Homo sapiens: one gene and its partner. The protein of the gene in region 1 interacts with the protein of each later gene in a pairwise test. Each region holds a gene or a part of one and is shown in the gene's direction. Other genes may lie near its edges. The genes, in order: NTM and TRPV2.

Region 1 (4,993 bases):
AAGCAAGAGAATGGCTGGCAGGCACTTGGTGGCCTTTTTCTGTCTTCCATAGGAAGAATTTTCTAACACAACAAACAGGTGAGGACACGACTCGTCTTTACAAGCTCTCTGTGGTGCTTCCCAGCATGGAGCAGATCCACAAAAGAACTCTGAGGGGCGTAGCAAGGAGACCAAACACAGGCACCCAGGGAGAGCGCCTGGCATAGCCACAGGGCCATTGAGATCTGCCACAGGGGGTGTTTGCCCGCTCTCAGTCGTCTCCCGAGCTGCAGAGTCCCCAGCCTGGAAACAAGGTTTCAGCATTCCCTTACATGGTAACTACGCCAGGCCCCTGCTGGGCTGAACACCTGGCTGTGGCATTCTCCTCCCTGGAGGCTTCCACTGGCAGGTCAGGCTGCAAGGAGGGAGTTCAGAAGAGAGGAGAGAACACCTCAGTGCAGGGAAGCGGCACTTGTTTTCCATCTCTTACCCAGGGCATCTTCTTAGTCACAGGGAGGGAGCGGGAGACGGGAGGTGGGAGTGTGCGGGAATTGAACAGGAAATGGGTTTCAAAGATGTGTGTGGATGTTCAGGAGAGCACAAGGGATGAAAGAGGCAGAGCAGTGTGCTGACAGCTGTGTCCCCTGCCGGGAGTTAAGGACTCCAGTGTGCAGGACACGTATGGAATTGTACGGTGTGATTCACGCATATGAAGCTATCTTCATATGAATGTGAACACTCACAGTGTTGAGGCAAAACATTCGACCTGGCTTCCATAAAGGCCTGCTGGGCCATATGGACTCAGAACCACCCTTGTCGTCTCAGAGTCCTCAGCCTCGGGCACAGACAAGGGCCTTGGTTGGAAGAATCTTGGAGTTGCCTAGAGGGGAAGGACTTACGCAGAGCAGAGAAACATAGTCTCTCACCCTTGAAGGCATCCGGCGGAGGCTTCTCTCCTTTGATTCCAAAGAATGTGCTCTGTAGATGACAGAGTGAGCATCTACAAAGGGGGAACGTCTGGTGATGGTTTCTGTGGACACATAGTAGTTAGATTCTAGAAGACACAACCAGTTAGTGACCGATCCTAAATGACAAGCATTTCTGGGTTGAGATTTAAATCCGCAGGAGCTTTACAGGAGTGCTCCTTGGTCACCTGTATCCTAGCACAGATGCCTTTGGTTTTGTGTTTTCTCCTTAATGCAGGGTAGAGAGAATAAGTATCCCCTGGGCTTCTCAGCATGGGGATCTGCACCTCTGAGAAGTTCCGGCCTTAGGGATACTGTGAATCAGACACCAGGGAAACATGAGGTTGATGACCTATTGCATTTCAATCTCATGGCTACCTATTTAGCCACGCCCCCAAATTAGGGATTTATCCCAAAAGGCCAAGACATAAAATCATATGGGCACTGCCTCCTAGCCAGGAGTTCTAGACTTGATGGAATAATCCCACATGGAATTGAGAAGCCTGTTTTGATTTTGATTTGTTTTAGCCAGAAATGTATCCAACGCTGAGCATCCAAGTCAGGCAGGCAGGTTCTGGCTTTGTTCCTTGTTCCCTAATCCAGGAAGACATGGACTTAGTGAGGCCACCAGCTTTAAATACCTCTATTAAATTCAATGCAACAGAGTATGCCAGAGCAGGTCCAGTCTGAGGAGGTGGCCTGGTTCCTTGAGTAGCTAATTCATCTGGGCATCCAAACTTATGTACTCTACAGAAATCAAAGCTCCACTGGTCATGGGGTTTCTTGGCCACAAGGGCCGAGGTAGCCAGAAAACGTATGTTTCAGAACAATAGGGAAGCTGCTGGGGAACTGTACTGCCTTGCAGTTCTCCTGCCTCCTGTGTTTGTCTCCATCTCCATACACTGGGGCAGGTTCTGCATCCCAGTGTCCTCATTGATCTCCAGTTACATCCACATGCACAGGAAGGCTTCCTGTTCCTTTGTTTGACTCACCTCCATCCATGTGGGCTGGCTTCGGCCTTGCAGGCATGTGATCCTTGAGCTGCATCTGCTCTTACCCCATCCAGATGGGGAAGAGGTCAAGTGCTCCAGGTGGAACCCAGGTGCCCTGCCCTGAGATAGAGTGATTGGCAGGATGGCCTCTGTGCCCAAGGAAGCAGAAGCAGCAGGCAGACACATTGTTTTGTCCAACAGGTTCTTTTCTGAGCCACAGGCCAAGCAGCTGGAGGGTGGGTGAGTATTTCAGGCAGGCAGTGCTCAGAAGTGGATGGGTGATGAGGCACTCAGCACAGTAGTCTGACTTTATTAAAGCTCTGTGTAGGATATTAATGAATCTGCCACCTTCTTCTTGAATTTGAGCCTGAGCCATGGCCTTTGCATGTTATGACACAGTAAGGAAGAAGGCCCAGGACACTTTAACCTGAGCCTCATGTTCTCTCCTTGCAGGGGAAGGCTTCCCGTTATCTAGTGTGTGTGTCTTGGGGATGTGGGCCATAGAACGTTCACTTCTAATGCTGGGGCTGGAACACCATGTGTTTCACTTAGAGGGATGACTCACCAGGGGCAAGGCCAAATGACAGCAGACCAGGCAACCACCGGGCTTTCCTTCCATTTTCTCCCAGACCACTCACGGCGAGTGTGTTCTCTCCACAGGTCCAGGCGCCGTCAGCGAGGTGAGCAACGGCACGTCGAGGAGGGCAGGCTGCGTCTGGCTGCTGCCTCTTCTGGTCTTGCACCTGCTTCTCAAATTTTGATGTGAGTGCCACTTCCCCACCCGGGAAAGGCTGCCGCCACCACCACCACCAACACAACAGCAATGGCAACACCGACAGCAACCAATCAGATATATACAAATGAAATTAGAAGAAACACAGCCTCATGGGACAGAAATTTGAGGGAGGGGAACAAAGAATACTTTGGGGGGAAAAAAGTTTTAAAAAAGAAATTGAAAATTGCCTTGCAGATATTTAGGTACAATGGAGTTTTCTTTTCCCAAACGGGAAGAACACAGCACACCCGGCTTGGACCCACTGCAAGCTGCATCGTGCAACCTCTTTGGTGCCAGTGTGGGCAAGGGCTCAGCCTCTCTGCCCACAGAGTGCCCCCACGTGGAACATTCTGGAGCTGGCCATCCCAAATTCAATCAGTCCATAGAGACGAACAGAATGAGACCTTCCGGCCCAAGCGTGGCGCTGCGGGCACTTTGGTAGACTGTGCCACCACGGCGTGTGTTGTGAAACGTGAAATAAAAAGAGCAAGAAAGAAAAAGGAAACAAAATAAGACCGTCTGACAGCAACAACGGTCCCACAAACAAGTCACAAAAGATACCGTTAAACTTTTTTTTTTTTTTATCATTTTACTACATGAACATCATGGATAACAAGGGATTCTGATTCATTATTAATTTCATTAATTATATTTTCTGATATGAGTCTAGAACTTACTGCAAAAACAAGACAAAACTAAAAAAATACAACTGAGAAGGGTGAAGAGAAGTATGTTTGTTAAACAGTAAAAATGAATAGTATACTTCTTAACTAGGTTTACAACTGGTGGACCACACACCAGGCACTAATCACCTGGTGAGGATTTGGCATATCCACCAAAAAATGCATCCGATTTAACCAACATCTCCACCAGCGCTACGGACTCCTCCCAATTCTGACATCTCTTGCAGACAATACTATGCTCTCTACACACTGTTTAGAAATGGAAAGGTGATCTGCACTGTATCTTGGGTTTGTTGGCTATGCTTCCTTTGATGACATATATTATACAGTATATATATACATATATTTTTTTTGTTAGAGTTCTAGCCATTTTATTTCTCCGCAGGGTCCTTTCTCAGACATTACTGCATGCTGTATATGGCGTTAGCTGTGTGTTGATCTTCTAAAAGATGATAGAGTTTACTGGTAATTGTGTAATCAGCTCCTGCCTTTTTATTTTCTTGGGTTATTTACATGTCAGAGACATTTATAAAAAGTGAAAGGATAAAAAAAAAAAAAAACAACTAATACCGGGCGCAGCATCTTTCCAGGTGTGGCTCTGCGCTAGGCCACCCCAGGTGGCCCCGCTTTCTCCATTCTGCCCTGTGGCGTTAACAGACAGCAAGCAGCTGAACAAGCAGTACCGTCAGTACCCACTTGCTTTAGCCCATTATGGGAATCTCTGATGCCTTTGTGACCACTGGAGAGTTTAATCCTCTTGGTTTATTTTATTTCCCACCTTTGTGTGAGTGTGTATGAAAGAGAAGAAAATGCAATTTTTAGGTAATCTTTTTTTTTTTTCCCCTCCCCTGAAAGTCTGGGAACCTGAGAGTCCTCGGGGAGGGGTCCTGGATGTGATGAGGGAAAGGGGGATTGGGGGATCCGGGAGGGTGGGGTTGTCTCTGACTTGACATTAAAAAGTGTTCCATGTCCCTCTTCACCTGGTGTGGTACCTCATTCTACAGCGGGGCGGGGGCACAGCCTGCCTGGCTCAGGTTTGAAGAATGGGGGAGGATGGGCTCTTAAACCCTCCTGGGATGGAGTGGTGGCAAGTGCTGAGATGACAAACAGGAAGGACGTGGGACCTCCTCCATCCCCGCACAGAGGCAAGGTGAGGGTGCGTCTGATAGGGACTGCATTTTCAGTGCCTTCGGGAGGTCCTGGCCAGGGCTGCCAGTGTCCTGCTTGTGCTCAAACATCTTACCACACAAGTGGGCAAAGGTCAAGTCTAGTCAGGGAGAAGACTTTAGGCCCAATTATTTCTGGGAAGCAGCAGAAAGTCACTGTCACGGAAAACAAGAAAACCCCCGAGAGCCAAAAGAAATCTCCCCGCAAAAAAACAAAACAGAAAGCCAGCTTGAAACATTGTGTTTAGTTTTAAATAATCTCCCATCAACCAGTCCTCCAAACCCAACCTCCAAACCTCACCTCTAGCCACATAAGAGGAACTGAGAGACAGAAATGGGTCCGAGCCAAAACACTCAGGAATGACGGCACTTGCATTTCCAAGTCACCTTCACCTGAGAGGAACCAGGAAGGACTGGGATGGAGCTGTGTCAT
Region 2 (7,285 bases), on another chromosome or scaffold:
GGGCTGGCCTCATGGGCTTACAGTGGAGATTTTTGAAAGATTAAGGAAACGATAAACATAAATAGAAGTTTTAACCCTTTTTCGCTGCCCTCCCAAGTTTTTTGGAGTGCTCCCTGGGGTGTGTGAACCTCACTTTCTTGTCTAGAGGCACTGCTGTGTGGCCTATGAAAGCAGTGTCCTGATCTGTTCCTCCTTTCCCATTCCTCACGCGTGAAACCAGACTGCTTCCTAACCTGTTTGGATTAGGGACCACTTTCTAGTCTGTTGAAAATTCTAGATTCTGACCGCGAAAGTGCACACACAGATACAGCTAGTAGACTCTGATCTCAGGGGCCTCAAGGACCCCAGGGCTAGGGATCAATCTGCCATTTGAGGAGTTCAAGGAAGGCCACAGGGCAGGGGAGGGGAAGGAAGAGCCAGGCTGGCTGGCAGGCTGGGGCAGATGTGGCTGGGTGCGTGTGTGTGTTTAAGAGTTTAGACAAACAAGGACCTGCGTGTATGGGGGTACGTGCACGTGTCAGCTGCAGCTCTGCAGACCGTGGGCAGCTGCTGAGTCCTGGGTGTTTCCCAGCCTTGGCCCAGGATCAGTGCCAGGAAGGGACCATGAATGCAAGCTCATATGGCCACCCTGCAGATTTTCAGGCACATCCTGCAGCGGGAGTTTTCAGGACTGAGCCACCTTTCCCGAAAGTTCACCGAGTGGTGCTATGGGCCTGTCCGGGTGTCGCTGTATGACCTGGCTTCTGTGGACAGCTGTGAGGAGAACTCAGTGCTGGAGATCATTGCCTTTCATTGCAAGAGCCCGGTGAGCCCACAGGAGCATGGGTGCACGCAGAGGACCCAGCAGAGTTTCCAGCAAGGTCCACAAATTGGGGCTGCCTGCTGGACCATATCTGCCCCATTCCTGTGCCAGTGGGGGTGTGGCTGCATGTCCCAGCAGGCACGACCCTGACCATGGCCACCGGGCCCATACTCAATCCATACTCTAGTCCCATCCAAGACGGGGATCATGCCAAGGGCCTCGTGGCAACCATCCGGGTCCTCTCTGTTAACCAGCATCTCATTTGGAGGGCAAGCCCCTTAGTCACACTGTAGCTGGGAGGGTTGGCGTGAGGTCCTTTGGGGCTCCTGGGGTGTGGAAGCCTGCTCCCTGTCCTCTCTCCTCATTTCCTGGGCCCTTGCTTTGATCTTGACATGGAGTGGGCAGCCTATTTGCACTTGTTGAGTGTACCCATGGCTCTCCCCTCCCCACCCCAGCACCGACACCGAATGGTCGTTTTGGAGCCCCTGAACAAACTGCTGCAGGCGAAATGGGATCTGCTCATCCCCAAGTTCTTCTTAAACTTCCTGTGTAATCTGATCTACATGTTCATCTTCACCGCTGTTGCCTACCATCAGCCTACCCTGAAGAAGGCAAGGGCGTGAGGTTTGGGGGGGCACATCTTGGGGGAGGCCTGCTTGAAACAACCCTGGGGGAAGATGGGGCAGTAATAGTGCTGAGGCATGGGCTGCTGGAGTGACATTCCCAAGCTTATGGGAGCCAGCACTGCAGTACTAACGGTGATACAGTGAAGATTTGCTGAGTGCTCACTGTATGTGAAAAAGGATTCTAGGTGATGGACATGTGTTGACTAATTAATGTGCCCCAAAACCCTTGAGATGGTGAATTATAATCACCCCCAGTTTATAGTAGAGGGAAGGGAGGCACAGAGAGGTTAAGTAACTTGCCCAGGGTCACACAGAATGGAAGTGGTGTGGAGAGGGAATCTGAATCCAGGGAGTCTGGCTTCAGACCCTACACTGAAATGCTACACAATGTGCCTCTCAGGATCCAGGGGTCCTTCCCTGGAGCCCATGTTCCCATGCCGTTCTGAGGAGCCTCTCCACAGCTCAGGCTCAGAGTAGGCCCTCAGCTTCAGCTCTGAAGGGTGAGCTGTTCGAGAGAGGACCCAAGGCCCTAGGTCTCATCTGAGTGTGTCTTCAGCAGGCCGCCCCTCACCTGAAAGCGGAGGTTGGAAACTCCATGCTGCTGACGGGCCACATCCTTATCCTGCTAGGGGGGATCTACCTCCTCGTGGGCCAGGTGAGTGCCCCTCCCCTTCTCCTACCAAGAAGCAAACCTAGAATTCTGCTTCAGGGGGCTTAGAGAAAGTTAGCTGCATCCCCTCACTGACAATACCCAGTCCCACCCAGAGCAACCAGCCTCACTGAAGCTGAGGGCCAGAGGTTCTGGCCTTGCCTTCTGAGTCCCCAGGAACCCCTCTGCTGTGCTTTTGGGGTTCCTTGGGGTAGCAGATAGCTTCTCTGATTCCTTGGCAGTACAGACTCTGCTCCCCCAGGAATGGAGCTGGAAGCGCCTGCCCCTAGCCAGGCCCCTCGGCTGGGAAGCTCCCCTCTTGGGGAGCACAGAGACCAGAGGTAGGTGGGGTTCAGGCTATTTCCCCCAGTAGGGCCTCTTCAGTGGGAAATGCTGTAAGCCTGCAGGACACAGGCTGGACACCAAGACATTGGGACCTCCGCAGAGTGGGCAGAACTTGGGCACCAAACGCAGGTTGGCTGGGGTATGGGTGCTCCCTGTGAGGCCAGGGAGAAGGGAAGGGAAAGGTGCTCTTCCCCTTCCTGCATGCAGTGCACAGGCTCTTCACCTGCACCCCCCGGCCTTGCCTAGGTGGCTGCTCTTTCTGGAAAGAAAGTCCCAAGCTATCTCAGCTATCAGAAGTATTCATGAGTCCCCCAAAACCAAAGCTGCTGACTTAGCTCTAGCCTGGGTGGCAGGCTCCCACTCAGCCAGGCCAGCAGGGGGCATGCGGGAGAGCAGGTTTCACAGCCCTCTGTCCTCCCTTCCTCCGCAGCTGTGGTACTTCTGGCGGCGCCACGTGTTCATCTGGATCTCGTTCATAGACAGCTACTTTGAAATCCTCTTGTACGTGGGTTCTCACTCCTCCTTCTCTCAACTGTCTCTGAGGTCTGGAAGGGGCAGTTGTGGCAGAAGGCACCAGGTTGGCTTTAGAGGCGAGGACACGGGGCCCAGGAAGTCGGGATCTGTGTACAGGCCAGTCCCAGGAGTCTGGGCTGCCGTCCAGCCTGGGGCCCCTTGTGCTCCCATCACTGTAGATGGTGATAGTGACATTTACTAGGCCTCGGCACATACCTGTTTCACTTAGTCCTTGAAAACACTCTATGAGTCAGGCATCATTATTATTATGCCCATTTTACAGTGGGAGGGAACTGAGGCCCACAGAGGTTAAATGTCTTGCCTAAGATGGAGGTCAGGACCTTGGTCAGCATAGGCCAGTGGGGGCTCAGGGAGCCAAGTGGCCCGCAAGCCCACCTGGATTCTGCTCCCACACAGCCTGTTCCAGGCCCTGCTCACAGTGGTGTCCCAGGTGCTGTGTTTCCTGGCCATCGAGTGGTACCTGCCCCTGCTTGTGTCTGCGCTGGTGCTGGGCTGGCTGAACCTGCTTTACTATACACGTGGCTTCCAGCACACAGGCATCTACAGTGTCATGATCCAGAAGGTGAGAGAAGGGGGTGGCCCACCGGGACTCTTTTGGCCTCATCAGGCAAGAAGAGCCTTCCTCCACAGCTATCCTAGGCAGAGGAGGGCATGTGTACATCTGCCTGTGCGCCAGCACTCAGATGCTTGCTGGATGGAAGCTTAAGTACAGGCCTGCACATACCTCTCTCAGGGCTCTGCATGCACACGCAAACAAACGTACATATGTGTGTTTGCAGGTGTCCACACGGGAGCATGTGCATCCTTCCACAAGCAAGGAGCAAAGAATATGTGCATAAGCTCATCTGCATGTCTGTGTCCTGCGATGTGTGGGCGCGGGCATGTAACTGCATTCATTTATGTATTCAGCGCATGTTTAGGGAGTGCCTACTGTGGGCCGGGCCCTGTTCTAGGTGTTGGGAATATAGCAGAGAACAGAACAAGTCCTTGCTCCCCTGAAGCTGATGTTCTGGTGGGAGGAAATGAAAACCTTAAGAAAACAACTGAGAACATTCCACACTGCTAAATTCTATGAAGGAAAAAAAAGCACAGGACAATGTGATGCAGAATGGCTGGGACCAAGTACCCTTTAGATGGGATGGTCTGGGAAGCCTCTCTAAAGAGGGGATGTTTAAGTTGAGACCTGAAAGAATGATTCAGCCACAGCAGGGTGAAGAGGAGATATTCTCAGCAGAGGGCACAGCAGTGGCTGCCACGAGCCAGAAGGAGCTTGGGGTGCTTGGGACAGGGTGAGGAGGCTAGGTGGCTGGGGAGATGGCAGGAGGGTGGAGGTGAGGAGGTTGGGAGGAAGGGAAGGGCCAGGGGCCCCTTCCACGGGGAGGGATTTGGAGGTCCCCAGAGGCTTTTTTTTTTTTAATTGTAGTAAAATACACCTAACATGGAACTTTTTTTTTTTTCTTTGAGATGGAGTCTCACTCTTGTTACCTAGGCTAGAGTGCAATGGCACCATCTCAGCTCACTGCAAACCCCTACTCCTGGGTTCAAGCGATTCTCCTGCCTCAGCCTCCCGTATGGCTGGGGTTGCAGGCACCCACCACCATGCCCGGCTAATTTTTGTATTTTTAGTAGAGACAGGTTTTCACCACGTTGGCCAGGCTGGTCTCAAACTCCTGACCTCAGGTGATCCGCCTGCCTTGGCCTCCCAAAGTGCTGGGATTACAGGCATGAGCTACTGCGCCTGGCCCATTTTAACCTTTTTTTTTTAAAGTATACAGCTAAGTGTCATTAAGTACATTCACACTGTTGTATAACCATCACCACCATCCAACTCCAGAACTTTCTTGTCATCCCAAACTGAAACTCAACACCCATTAAACAACTCCCCATTCCCTTCCCCCAGTCCCTGGAAGCCACCATTCTAATTTCTGTTTCTACGAATTTGATGACCATAGCTACATCGTAGAAGTGGAATCATACAGTATTTGTCCTTTAATGTCTGGCTTATTTTACTCAGTATAATGTCCTCAAGGATCAGCCATGTTGTAGCATGTGTCAGAAATGCCTTCCTTTTTTTTTTTTTTTTGAGATGGAGTCTTGCTCTGTTGCCCAGGCTGGAGTGCAGTGATGCAATCTTGGCTCACTGCAACCTCCGCCACCCAGGTTCAAGCGATTCTCCTGCCTCAGCCTCCCGAGTAGCTGGGACTACAGGCATGTGTCACCACATCCGGCAAATTTTTTTTATTTTTAGTAGAGACGGAGTTTTGCCACGTTGGCCAGGATGGTCTTGAACTCCTGACCTCAGGTGATCCACCCACCTTGGCTTCCCAAAGTGCTGGGATTGCAGGCTGAGCCATCACGCCCAGCCAATTCCTTCCTTTGTAAGGCTGAATAATATCCCATTGTGTAGATACACCACATTTTGTGCGTCCATTCATCTGTCGATCCAGTCACCTGTTGCTTCCACCTTTTGACCATTGTGAATAATGCTGCTACGAACAAGGGTGTAAAAGTATCTGTTAGAGTCCCTGCTTTCAATTCTTTTGGGCATATACATACCCAGAAGTGGAATTGCTGGGTCATACAGTAGTTCTATATTTTATTTTGTGACCCTGGAAGGTTTTTTTTTTTTGTTTTTTGTTTTTTGTTTTTTGAGATGGGACTCATTCAGTCACCCAGGCTGGAGTGCGGTGACACGATCATAGCTCATTGCCGCCTTGACATTCTGGGCTCAAGCAATCCTCCTGTCTCAGCCTCCTGAGTAGCTGGCACTGTAGGCTTGTGCCACCATGCCCAGCTACTGGAAAGTTTTAAGCAGGAAAACAATGTGATCTGAGACATATATATATATATATATATATATATATATACATATTTTTTTTTTTTTTTTTTTTGAGACGAAGTCTCACTCTGTAGCCCAGGCTGGAGTGCAGTGGTGTGATCTCGGCTCACCACAACCTCTGCCTCCTGGGTTCAAGTGATTCTCCTGCCTCAGCCTCCTGAGTAGCTGGGATTACAAGCACAGGCACACCACTGCACCTGGCTAATTTTTTGTATTTTTAGTAGAAACGCGGTTTCACCATGTTGGCCAGGCTGGTCTTGAACTCCCAACCTCAGGTAATCTGCCCGCCTCAGCCTCCCAAAGTGCTAGGATTATAGGCATGAGCCACCGCACCCAGCCAGATCTGAGATATATTTTTAAAAGACTCCTCTGCTCGGTGTGGCTCCACAGGCCCACATATGCATATGTATGTGTGCGTATGTGCAGTGTACACGGGAACCATGCTGCTGTGGGTGAGGCAGGGTTCTGGGGTCGTGACTGGTGGCCCAGCTACCCACCCTGGCCCCTGGGCACATGTGTTCCAGGTCATCCTGCGGGACCTGCTGCGCTTCCTTCTGATCTACTTAGTCTTCCTTTTCGGCTTCGCTGTAGGTAAAGGCTCCCTCCGGCCCCCTCCCCCTTCCCCACGTTCCTTGTCCACCCTGTACACTCCCAAGGCTGCCCACCGGTCTCCTGGGCTAAGGACCCCTCTCCCTTCATCCCATAGCCCTGGTGAGCCTGAGCCAGGAGGCTTGGCGCCCCGAAGCTCCTACAGGCCCCAATGCCACAGAGTCAGTGCAGCCCATGGAGGGACAGGAGGACGAGGGCAACGGGGCCCAGTACAGGGGTATCCTGGAAGCCTCCTTGGAGCTCTTCAAATTCACCATCGGCATGGGCGAGCTGGCCTTCCAGGAGCAGCTGCACTTCCGCGGCATGGTGCTGCTGCTGCTGCTGGCCTACGTGCTGCTCACCTACATCCTGCTGCTCAACATGCTCATCGCCCTCATGAGCGAGACCGTCAACAGTGTCGCCACTGACAGCTGGAGCATCTGGAAGCTGCAGGTGCCACCAGAGAGGCTCCCTGCCCCCACCCCACCCCACACTCAGGCGGTGGGGAGTGCTCCGGACCCTGCGGAGCTGGGCCTTCCCTAGCCAGGAGATGCCGGGTTGGGCAGCTCTACCTTGTCAGTCTTCCTCTTCCTTTTTTTTTTTTTTTTCTGGAGACAAGGTCTTGCTCTGTCACCCAGGCTGGAGTGCAGTGGCACGATCACAGCTCAATGCAGCCTCGGCCTCCTGAGCTCAAGTGATCCTCCTTCCTCAGCCTCCTGAGTAGCTGGGGTTACAGGCACCTGCCACCACACTTGGCTAATATTTTTATTTTTTGTAGAGAAGAAGGTCTCACTATGTTGCCCCGGCCTCAGGTGATCCTCCCACCTTTGCCTCCCAAAGTGCTGAGATTACTCCCACCTCCTTTAAGCTCATAGATGTACTTAGGACAGTGCCCAGCACCA

Evidence for each region.
Region 2: the proteins of NTM (region 1) and TRPV2 interact in a protein complementation assay, tested with the Homo sapiens proteins (one study listed by IntAct).

Annotation. Positions count from the first base shown.
Region 1 is NC_000011.10:132,332,450-132,337,442, forward strand, and holds the end of NTM (neurotrimin isoform 9 precursor), read left to right. Parts: exon of another isoform or gene 1-314; intron 315-2,596; coding exon 2,597-2,697; 3' UTR 2,698-4,373; downstream 4,374-4,993.
Region 2 is NC_000017.11:16,425,465-16,432,749, forward strand, and holds part of TRPV2 (transient receptor potential cation channel subfamily V member 2), read left to right. Parts: intron 1-634; coding exon 635-805; intron 806-1,257; coding exon 1,258-1,413; coding exon of another isoform or gene 1,414-1,425; exon of another isoform or gene 1,426-1,426; intron 1,427-1,984; coding exon 1,985-2,083; intron 2,084-2,852; coding exon 2,853-2,923; intron 2,924-3,352; coding exon 3,353-3,518; intron 3,519-3,735; coding exon of another isoform or gene 3,736-3,795; exon of another isoform or gene 3,796-4,855; intron 4,856-6,319; coding exon 6,320-6,386; intron 6,387-6,501; coding exon 6,502-6,836; intron 6,837-7,285. UniProt on the Homo sapiens protein: Calcium-permeable, non-selective cation channel with an outward rectification. Seems to be regulated, at least in part, by IGF1, PDGF and neuropeptide head activator. May transduce physical stimuli in mast cells.